2 separate regions of the Homo sapiens genome follow, and region 2 is linked to region 1. The links come from fine-mapping of genetic effects on gene expression. Tissue or cell type: prefrontal cortex. Region 1 holds a variant in brackets; the other region holds the start of a gene. All regions are shown on one strand. Distances are from middle to middle.

Region 1 (5,206 bases):
TAAGGGTTAAGGCATCTGAACAATTTTCTCCTCAGAGCCCTTTGGAAATTCTGTGGTTTACTGTTTTAACTTTTTTGCAAGCAGTTGGCTCTCAGACCCTAATTCAAGGGGTACCCTAAAATTCCAGATGATACCTTTTTGTCAAAGGCCACATGCGCAGGAATAAAATCCGCAGGTGGGGCTTGTTTAGGTTGGCCATAAGTTAAGACTGGTGCCTTACTGGCCAACTCATCCAGCTCAGCCTGGGACAGCTGGTTGAACTGGAGCCGGTCTCCGCCTATCCCAACTGTTGGACGTCGAACAATTGCATAGCCGTTCCTGTAGCTCAGCGTCTGACTTCTGTGGAAGGCTGTTTTCTGAAGAAGAAAAGAATGTGTCATTAATAACATTAGACAAATATTTGTTAGGTAAAAAAAAAACTAACTTTTAAAAATATAACTTGAATCTTTGCTTATAAGCATCACAAAACTTACATCAAGAAGCTTACCAACATTAAGGCTGGGCATGGTGGCTCGTGCCTATAATCCCAGAACTCTGGGAGGCTGAAGAGGGAGAATCACTTCAGCCCCAGAGTTCGAGACCAGCCTGGGCAACAAGATGCTGTCTCTACAAAAACTAAAAAAAAAAAAAAAAAAAAAAAAAAATTAGCTGGGTGTGGTGGCTTGTGCCTATTATAGTCGGCTGAGGTGGAAGGATCACTTGAGCCTGGGAGGTCCAAGCTGCAATAAGCTATGATTGAACCACTGCACTCCAGCCTGGGCAACAGTGAGACTCTGTCTCAAAAAAACAAAACAAAACAAAAGCTTACCTACATTAAAAGATTCTGTATTTTAAGTTAAAACACTTGAACAAGAACAAGGAGCGAAGTAGCCACCTAAGCTTAAAGTAAAATTTAAAGCTGTGCTCTGTAATGCCCAATTTAACTACCAATTCACCTTGCATGAGAGATTAAAAGAGTATCTCATCTATACTCTTAAGTTTTTCACTAGTCTTCTCATGTTTTTCATCTGATATCTGGGGCCGTAAAAACTGTAGAACCTAGAAGATACGGTTCTGTGAATTTTATTTTTACATGGAATGAATTTATTTTTACCTGTCCCTCTTGTCACAATGACAGTGATACATTCTTACAACTCTTTGGAAAGCAACTGGATGGTATATATTTAAAGTCTTGAACTCAATAATTCTACCCCGACCATTTATTTACGAATATGATTCAGAATTATGAGAAAGAACTATATGCCTGAAGCTGCCCATTACAATGGTAAATGTTGAAGACAATCTAAAAGACAGTCATATGAAGACATGAGTAAATGATCGAAAACTCACTCAATGGATTATGGTGCTGTCATTAAAATATTGATTTTAGAGATCACGTGGCAACCTGGTGAAAATATTTATGATTTAATAAGCCTGAAAAAGCAACATATAAAATTATATGTGTACTGCAATTATAAGCATGGAAATATGTGCATGAAGAGACTGGTTTGGTCCTCTGTATTATACATTTCTAAATTATGTTGATTTTTTACAATGAACACATTTTTATTTAAAAGATTAAATAAAAAAGAGTAGAAAGGCAAATTAGAGGTTATGTTAATGGTTTCCTTTTTCTGTTGTGAGGATACTTTCACAATTACTTATCTATAATATTCAAATATATACATAGATACAATTTAAGATTAATCATAAAAAATATTTTTATGAAAAAAACTTTCTACATCCTAATTGCTTTAGAGCCCAGCCTACCATCTTTCAAGATCTGTACTAACATGAAAGGTACAACAGAATAAACTTCTTTTGCTAAAAGGGTTATAAACTGTATATAACCCATAAAAACAAATGTATGACATTTGTTTTTAAAGGTCATGTATTCAGAGTCACAAGTCAGTTGACAGGGACTGCTCCAGGTATATAGTAAACATGACATAGAACAAAATGCGCTGAGTTGACATCCTCATTGGGTAATTTATGGAACTTCAAGCTCTTCTTCCACCACCAAAGACAGAAGCAACATCAGTGACTTCAGTTTATTTCTTTGTTTTAGACAAATGTCTCTACCATCATTCAGCCATAACTCACAGACACCCCAGGCAAGGCAACCTCGGCCCTTTCCACCCCTCTTGTCCATTATGGTTCACCTTCTGTGTGTCTTTTTTTAAAATCGTTTTCCCACTCCCCTTTAAAAATTTTTTAACTTCTTATCTGCATGTCTTTAGAATTACATTAATACATATTCAGTCCTTCACTGCTGAAGATATACTGACGATGCTTTTCAAATTTCAAATAGGGCAAATTGGTTGACACTTGGCCAGTGTATTTAAAATCTGAAATATGTCCAATGCACAGTTCTTCTTACTTGTAATACAGCAATATGTTTTTAGAGCTTTGCACTTCCATCCACACCTCTGTAATTCCCTGTATCAACTCAGCCCTGTCTATACTCACCAACACCAAAAGCTTAAGCTCATCCTGTATAGGGCAGGCAAGTGCCTACAACATTTTCTAAATTACATAAAACTGAAAAGTCCACTGAAACTAAAAATCTATGATGTTGTGTCTTAATGCAGGGATAATTACAGAGATTCAGAATACAAATTCTCTCACCAAACTTTCGATTTCATTCTAAATTGATTCTTCCAAAGAAAATAAATTGACAAAATATTTTAACTTTGTGAAGCTGGAGAGGAAGGCAAGAGTTTAAAGTATTAAACTATATAAACATAAACTACTGTTAGCTCATCTATGATGATCAGTCTACTGAATCTCATTATTGATTTTTCAGCACATACATTTCAGTAGCCCTGTCAGAATTAAAACAAACCAAATAATTTTAAGAGCTAAACTGTGGCAAGAGTTTAAAAAAAAAAAAGAATCCAAGCTGCTGCTACTTTTTAAAAAATTTTGTCTAGAAAATGCAAATAAAAACACAAGGTTGGGGAAGGAGCAAAACAAAATCTAAACAGGAATCTTTTTACAAAAACGTTAGAATAAAAAGAACAGGGCCGGGGAAGAATAAACAGCAACTAATCAATTCTTGAGGGAACTGGAAAGGAATATCTCTTACAAAGCAGGGAAAGATGCTTTGGGAGGAAGGTGAGCAAGTTTTGGGGAAAACCCGCAACGGAGAAAGAAAGGAATGGGGAGAGGATGGGACTAAATTGTGGAAAATGTAGAAGATGGAGAAAAAAGAATGGGGTTGGATGCAAGCATAAAGAAGAAAGGAAAAAGACCTGGCGGAAAGAAGAGGAGCGGAATCGATATACA[T/G]ACAAAACAGGAAATGGAGCTGGGAGTGGGAGATACTACCGGGTACAGGATTCAGAAGAGGAAGAGGTGGGGCGGGAATGACGGACCTGTGGGAATGAGGTTGAAGGTGCATAGTGGCGGGGGGTTTTAAGGGCGGCGATGGACGGAGACAGGTTATGATGTGAGAGAACGAGCTAGGGAGAGGGCCCAGAGATAGGTTGGGAGTAGGGTGGGGGAAACAGTGATCTAAAGGGACAAGAGGCAGGGGCTTGGAGGAGCAGGGCCGTAAGAAAGAACGCGGCTAACGGGATGAGAATGAAGGCGCCAACACACTGCCAAGATGGAGTGGGAAAAAACTAGAGAGGGATGAGGCGGAGGGCAAAGGATCGGAGAGAGGGGATGAGGATGGCTAGGGAAGAACGGCAGAAGTTCGGCCCAGAATAAAGAACAGGGTCAGGACAGAAGACGTGTTTGGAGAGAAGACAGACTTGAGTGGAGGGGAATGGAGGTGCACTGAGCGGGGAAACCTCCTGGGCTGCTGGAAGGTGGGGACAGGTGGGAGTCTGGCAGATAACTGCTCACCGTAGAGTCCTTAAAGGACGTGCCCGGAAGAAAGGGCAAGCCATGCACGGGATTGGACACCATTGCAGCCGGTACCACCGCCGCCACCTAGGTCCTGCTTCGTCCTCTCCGGTTGCCCAGGCGACAAGCAGTGTTCGCGGGCACCTCCAGGATCCATGGTAACGCTAAACATCCGGAACTCCCACGAGCGGAAGGCGGGGCCAGGAGGCGCAGGCATCACAGGAGGTTTGCGCGTGCGCCATCCGCAGGACTCCGCGTTCTCGCGGTAAGTGGGCCGCGGCCTTGGAGCGCGGCTAGTGGGCGTGGTTGTGTCGGCCCCTCCTCTTCCGCTTCGCCCCGCCCCGCTCCCGGAGGATGAGACGTGGGAGCTGTTGGGTGGCGCGGGGAAAGGCGGGTGTAGCGAGGCGGTAGTTCTCGCTGTGAGATCCGGGGTCCGAGCAGGCCCTTAGATGAGTTGCAGAGAGGGACGTTCCTTCTCTCCTTCCACCTAGTCCTGGCGGACCTCACTGCGCCCCGCCAACGCTGTGAGCTCAGGCACTCTTTTCTCCCCCCTCTGCCCCATTTCACACAGAAGTGTAAATGGTCGGTCCAGTTGGCAGTGCTACTAAACTAGACCCATGCTTCTTGTAGGCAGGGGCCGAGGATTACCCATGATTGTGTTTCTGTTGCTCAGGGATGGTCAATGAACTAATGCAATCATCTCATCCTTAATTCTCCCACTGCCACATTGTATTTTTCCCCTTTTAACTCTTTTTTAAAATCAATCTTTCTCTTTCTTTCTTTCCTTTCTTTCTTTCCTTTCTTTTCTTTTTCCTTCCTTCCTTCCCTCCTTCCCTCCGTCCCTCCTTCCCTCCTTGCTTCCTTCCTTCCTTCCCTACTTCCCTCCTTCCGTAGAGATAGTGTCCCACTATGTTGCCCAAGCTGGTCTCGAATTCCTGGGGTCAAGCGATCCGCCCACCTCGCCTCCCAAAGTGCTGGGATTACAGGCATGAGCCACCGCGCCCAGCTCTCTTTATTCTACCATCAATCCCTTCGGTTAAACACCTTTGTTTTTGTAGGGAAAGCCTTGAATATGTGCTGCAGGGCAGGGTGCACTCTGATAGGTACTTGATTTTTGTTGACTGAAGAGCTGCAGGTTGAAGGGTGGTCACCTCAATCCCTCGTTTGTACCTGCAGCTGCAATGAAAAAGATCAGAACCACTAGGAGGAACACAGCTCCTTCAAAGAGAAAGACTAAGTCTTGGGAAAGAAGCAGATAAGTGAGGTGAAATATTGTCAGCATCATAGGTATAGCCTTTGATGCTTTTTACAAAACTTGCTTAAATTATTTTTTCTTAAAAGAAACATAATCCTATTCCTGAAACATTTTTTTTGGGGG
Region 2 (5,131 bases), 59 kb after region 1:
TTCAGAAATCATTCTCTTCCCTTTACTTCTGTGGATCCTTTCACATCAAAAATCAAGCACCAGGCATTACCTACAGCTGGGGCAAATGGCTTTCTGGGTACCTTTTTTTTTTTGGTGAGACAACAAGTCTTTTGTATTTTTGTTTTGCTTTCTGTAAAAATCCACAATGACAGAGACTGCCTAGTAACAAGTATCAGGAGGGGCAAAGAAAGGCTTACTTTTTCTAGCCCAATAAGCCATAAGCTATAACAATAAAGTGACAGGACCAATTACTTTACATACATACCAGAGCATAAACACCAAAATGAAGGTTGTGCTTCAAAGTAGTTAAGTTTTTGAGGAGTTAAATGTTGTACTCAAAATTTCCACTGTGGAGATGATGGGAGCCCCTAACCCCGGTGTTATTCAGGGACCAACTGTAATTCCTTCCAATCCTAAATACATACTCCATGCCATTACTAAATGCCCCTTTTAGAACTGCCAGTCTTTCAAGAGAATTTTCATTACTTTAATGAGCATACTTATTGACAACCTCGATTCCCCACCTCGGAAGCCCAAGTTGGCCCCGCACAGTGCCTGGCTGTTTCCCAGCTGAGGAAGGTTTGCCACCACTGAGGCAATCAGGAAATGTGTTGCAAACTCGGAAGGCAACTCCAAAGCAGGAGCTCCAAAATTATTCTCAGTAGTGACAGCATCACTAGAATTAGTACACAGCTTGCCAAGAGCAGGCTTTTGAAGGGGAGAAATACTGATTTGAATGTATAAATACTGGCATATTTATTTTAACATTTGGATAAAGAATTGGAAGCATCAGCAAGTGTTACGTCCAAGTGAATAAGTACACTGCTGCAGGAATGATAGTGCAGATTTTGATGCAAGGTCCTGACCACTCAATAAGGTATACACACACCCTTAATGGAAATATGCTTATCCTGAAATGATTCTTGTAAAATGAATAAATCGCTTTCTATCCTGTTAACTTGCATAATTATTAAAGATTTCCTTTTCATGAATTAAAAACAGACCCAACAAATGCTAGTTGCCAAAATAATCCTTGTTTATCCAATGAAGCTCAAATCTCAGTGTGTGTCAGAAGATGGACCTATATGCACCAGAAGGAAATCTGGTGCATACACACACCCGCAAAAAAAAAAAAAAAAAAAACATATCTTTCAATGGATATATCCACTTAATAAGATTCCTCTACTCTGGGTCTTCCAGAATTGGTTGTTACGCCAAATAACTGAAATAATTACCATACATAATTAACAATACAAGATGGGTTAATGTAAGATAGTCAACATTTAACTAATAATTGAAGGACACGCACCCAAGGACAAACAGCAGAAATAAAAAACAAAAACAAAAACAAAGCCATGCCTTGGTCCTTTGTTTTTAGATACACACTTGGATACTCATCCACTGAGGTCCTAAGCAGTCTGGCTCCCTTCCAGTTGACCTGGTCAAGGGTGCAGCAGCTCAGGGCTGGGTACACGTTGTGGATAACCTTAACAGGGCAGTCAAGGGCAGTCTACCTTCCATGCAGGCAACTCCTATTAACTTCAGTAACAGGAGTCTTCACTGACAAGCAAATACTCCCAAACTGTACAATACTCTCATGTTTAACTCGACTGGAATGCAGTGCGTTTGTGGACATTGTTTGGTGTGTGTATTTGTTGTGGATTTTCCTCGTTTTTACCCAGAAACAGCTTCTCAGAGTACTGGAACAAGTAGTACACACGTGGGTCTAAAAATCACACATACAGTGTATTGTATGAGTTATCCCTAAGGCGCGCACACACACGGGTAGGTATTACCTGTACATTTGAAATCTCACTCCATAACTAATTTTTTTAGCCCAGGCTCTTCTCATTGGGTTCCTGGACAAAATCATTTCTAACCCAGCTAAGAAATATGGAATGCAACTTAGGTCAAGACAATGAGCCTGCCAAGGCTCCTGGACTTCCCACTAGTCTGCCAGTGCCTGGAGCACCCACAGCTGCACAGGAAGCTGCTGTGCCCGGCTACCTCCAGGTCCCCGCACCGGGTCGGCAAGGTGCAGCAGCCCCCAAACCCAGGCTCCGAATATTCCCCAAGCGCGCTGAGTGCGAGGTCCCCACCCGCCTCCGTCTGGGGATGCCCGGTCTTGCTCCCTAGACTAGATTCCCTCTCGAGTTATCTACGACCCTGTTCCACCGAGGGCGCTGCGTTCTCATAGCCTAGACAGACGTTCCCAGCGTTCCAGCCCCACCAGCCACCTCCGACACCCCACCGCGGCGTTCCCATCCAGCCAAGCCCCAGCATCCGCCCATTAGCCAGCTGCCGGCGGTTCCCATCACAACTCCGCTCCTCGCGCCCACCCTCTCAGAGAAGCCCCCTCCATCTTTCCCCGGCGAAAGCACATGCCTAGACCCACCCTACTCTTTCCGGGGTTCCCCTACCTCGGGCTGCCCTTCCTCGGGCTCTCCCTACCGCCCCGGGCTTCCTCTCCTCCGCACTCCCCTCCCAGGTTCCGTTCCCCTCCGCCCTGCGGAGGGCGCCCCACAAATGCGGACAGGACGCCCCTCGTTCTGCCCTGTCGGACTCCCCCACGTCTTGGTCCTGAATCTCCCGCCCTCCGGGCTCAGCCTTCCCAACATCGCGGTCCCCACACCCCCGCCAGCTCTCCAGGCTCAGGCTCCATGACTCCCCAGCATCGCAGTCCTGGCCACCCCACTACAGCCGTTCAGAGCTCCAGGGCTCCCCAGCATCCTAACCCGTCGTCCCCCCTTCCGGGCTTGGATTCGGAGACTCAACATCGGGGCCCTAAACTCCGGCCCCTGGCCTCAGGTTCCCAACGCTGCGACTCTGGACCTCCCCTCTGAGCTCGGGGTGCGAGGACTCCCCAACGCCGCGATCCTGACGTCCCCGCCTCCCGAGCTCGGGCCCCGGGGCTCCCCGACCTCGCGGTCCCAATACCCAACTCGACCCGTTCCGCGCCTCCCGCGGCGGGACTCACCGGCAGGGGCGGCGGCCGAGCCCGTGCGCGTAGCCCAGCCCGGCCCAGCCCGCGCTCCCGCCTCGGGGTCCCGGCCACGAGCTTCCCGCGGGTGGCTGTGACCGCGGCGGGCTCGGCTCGGGGGAGCGGCCGGGAGGAGGAGACCGCCGGGGGCGGGTGACGCCCAGCTCCGCCCCTTCCCGACCCGGGGGCGGGATGCGCAGACCCGCGCGCTCCGCTGCAGCCCGCGCCGCTGCCGCCGCTGCGAGGAAGTTGACTGACGCCGCTTCCTTCCACCCAGGACGCAGACCCTCGCAGTCCCTGGTAGCTGCAAAAAATCCGGAGAGTTTGAGACAGAGACGCCTTAACCGCCCTCATATTCTTTCCAAGAATTCACCTCTCAGGGGGCCATTTCCGAAGTCCCTCGGGAAGGGCGGAAAACAATAACAAACTTCATCTGCGCTGTCAAGACTGATTTAAATCCTGGCCTTTCTCTCACCACTCTCGGGTGAACGTTCAGGGTCATGCCCATGATATAAATAATGTGATGACATACCACGGAGGCCCTTGCAGACACTTCCACACCCCTAAGATACACCCGCCCAAGACTCGCGCCTCTCCCATGACTACATCACACAGACACATCTGACACTGACCTGCAGAAGATCCCACTTCTACCCTGTGTCCTCAATCCACAGCCTTCGTGGGTCCCAGCAATAGCGACCCACACATACAATCTATTGGAGGCAGGGTGCGGGGGTGGGTTCCACCTCCCGACTTGCTCCTCACCCACAATGTTCTCGGTATTTTACCATGAGAAAAAGACAGTTAAGAAGTTGGATGATCAATTAACAAATCAAGTTGGCTTTGCTTTTAAAAAGCCTTCTTCATTATCTGGAGAAAAGAGAAGGCCTGGGAAGATGGCCTGCTTACTGTAAGATTTTGTCAGACAGGCCTAATTCTGGTCTGCTTACTGTAAGATTTTCTCAGACGGCCTAATTCTGGTCTGCTTACTGTAAGATTTTCTCAGGCCTAATTCTGGTCTGCTGGTTCCCAAAACTTCTCTTATACCACCGTGTTTCAGTGACATGTTGCACAACATCTCACATTTGTACAATGTTTCCATTTTTCAAAACATTTTAGCCGAGTGTGATGGTTCACACCTGTAATCCCAGAACTTTGGGAAGCCAAAGTGGGCAGATTGCTTAAGCCCAGGAGTTCGAGACCAGCCTGGGTAACAAGGTGAGACCCTGTCTCTGCAAAAAATACAAAAATTAGATGGGCGTGGTGGCACACGCCTGTAGTCCCAGCTACTTATTCTCAGGCAAACATCACGAAGCAAAGAAAGTAATCTTAGCAGGATTATTTCAGTTCCATAAATGAAGACATTTAGACTCTGAGCAGTTGCACGGCAGGTTTGAAGCTGAGTCAGAGCCAGGAAAGAGCCCAGGGGCCTGTCTTTAGAGCCACTGATCTCCCCAGGGAATCATAGTCCAGCACTTACTTATAGGTGGATACTAGTGGAAATGTCACAGGAGGTCTTTGGCAGCTTTGCTCCCTCCATCTCTTCTTCACCCCAAAGATGTCAGGGAACTCTCCCTTAACCTCAAAAACCCGGGCTCTCCTTTATCGTCAAAAACCTATGATAGGCCAGAGGTCACAACCGTACAAGAGGGCTTATTGAGAGGGAGTGAAAACTCCTTCCACTTTGGGCCACTCTAGAAACAAAATTACAGGTTAGCACATCTAAAAGCCTATCCACAGCCTTCATCCAACTAACGTGAGCTGTCAGCCGGGAGCTGATGAGCCTCCGAAATGCATTGCTGATTATTTTTGCAGTGTTTTTCTCCCTAACAGTTAATCCATGTGGAATGTGAAGAAGTCTTAAAAGGAGACTAACAAGGCTTCTAATTCTTTCTCAATGGTAAATGTTCCTTTCTTCTTGCCCTTTATCCAAAAGGCAGATGTGAACGTGCATGTAAAGTGTAATGGGTGTCAGGCATTGTTATCTGTGCATGAGGCAGTTCTGTTTCCAAGTGACGCTGTCCAGAGCCACTAAATAAGAATGGTGGTTCTCATCCTTCATGCCTTTTAAAACTACCTTGGTCTCAAGCTAGCTTCTTTTATTTTCTACTGTGAGGTAATGGCCTACTT

The links. PIP is the estimated chance that this variant, and not a neighbour inherited with it, causes the effect.
Region 2: it holds the start of PAQR8, and the variant in region 1 is fine-mapped to the expression of PAQR8 in prefrontal cortex (GTEx, PIP 0.93).

Annotation. Positions count from the first base shown.
Region 1 is chr6:52,419,096-52,424,301 of GRCh38, reverse strand. EFHC1 (EF-hand domain containing 1) reads right to left here and starts at 3,960. Exons shown (of 11, transcript NM_018100.4): 1 at 3,829-3,960; 2 at 135-356. The coding sequence starts at 3,891. It overlaps LOC124901331 (a long non-coding RNA gene), which reads left to right and starts at 3,321. Exons shown (of 2, transcript XR_007059611.1): 1 at 3,321-4,093. RefSeq lists an enhancer at 3,400-3,991. The variant T/G (reference allele first, on the strand shown) is at 3,268.
Region 2 is chr6:52,360,117-52,365,247 of GRCh38, reverse strand. PAQR8 (progestin and adipoQ receptor family member 8) reads right to left here and starts at 3,097. Exons shown (of 2, transcript NM_133367.5): 1 at 2,999-3,097. RefSeq lists silencers at 2,845-3,334, 3,508-3,693.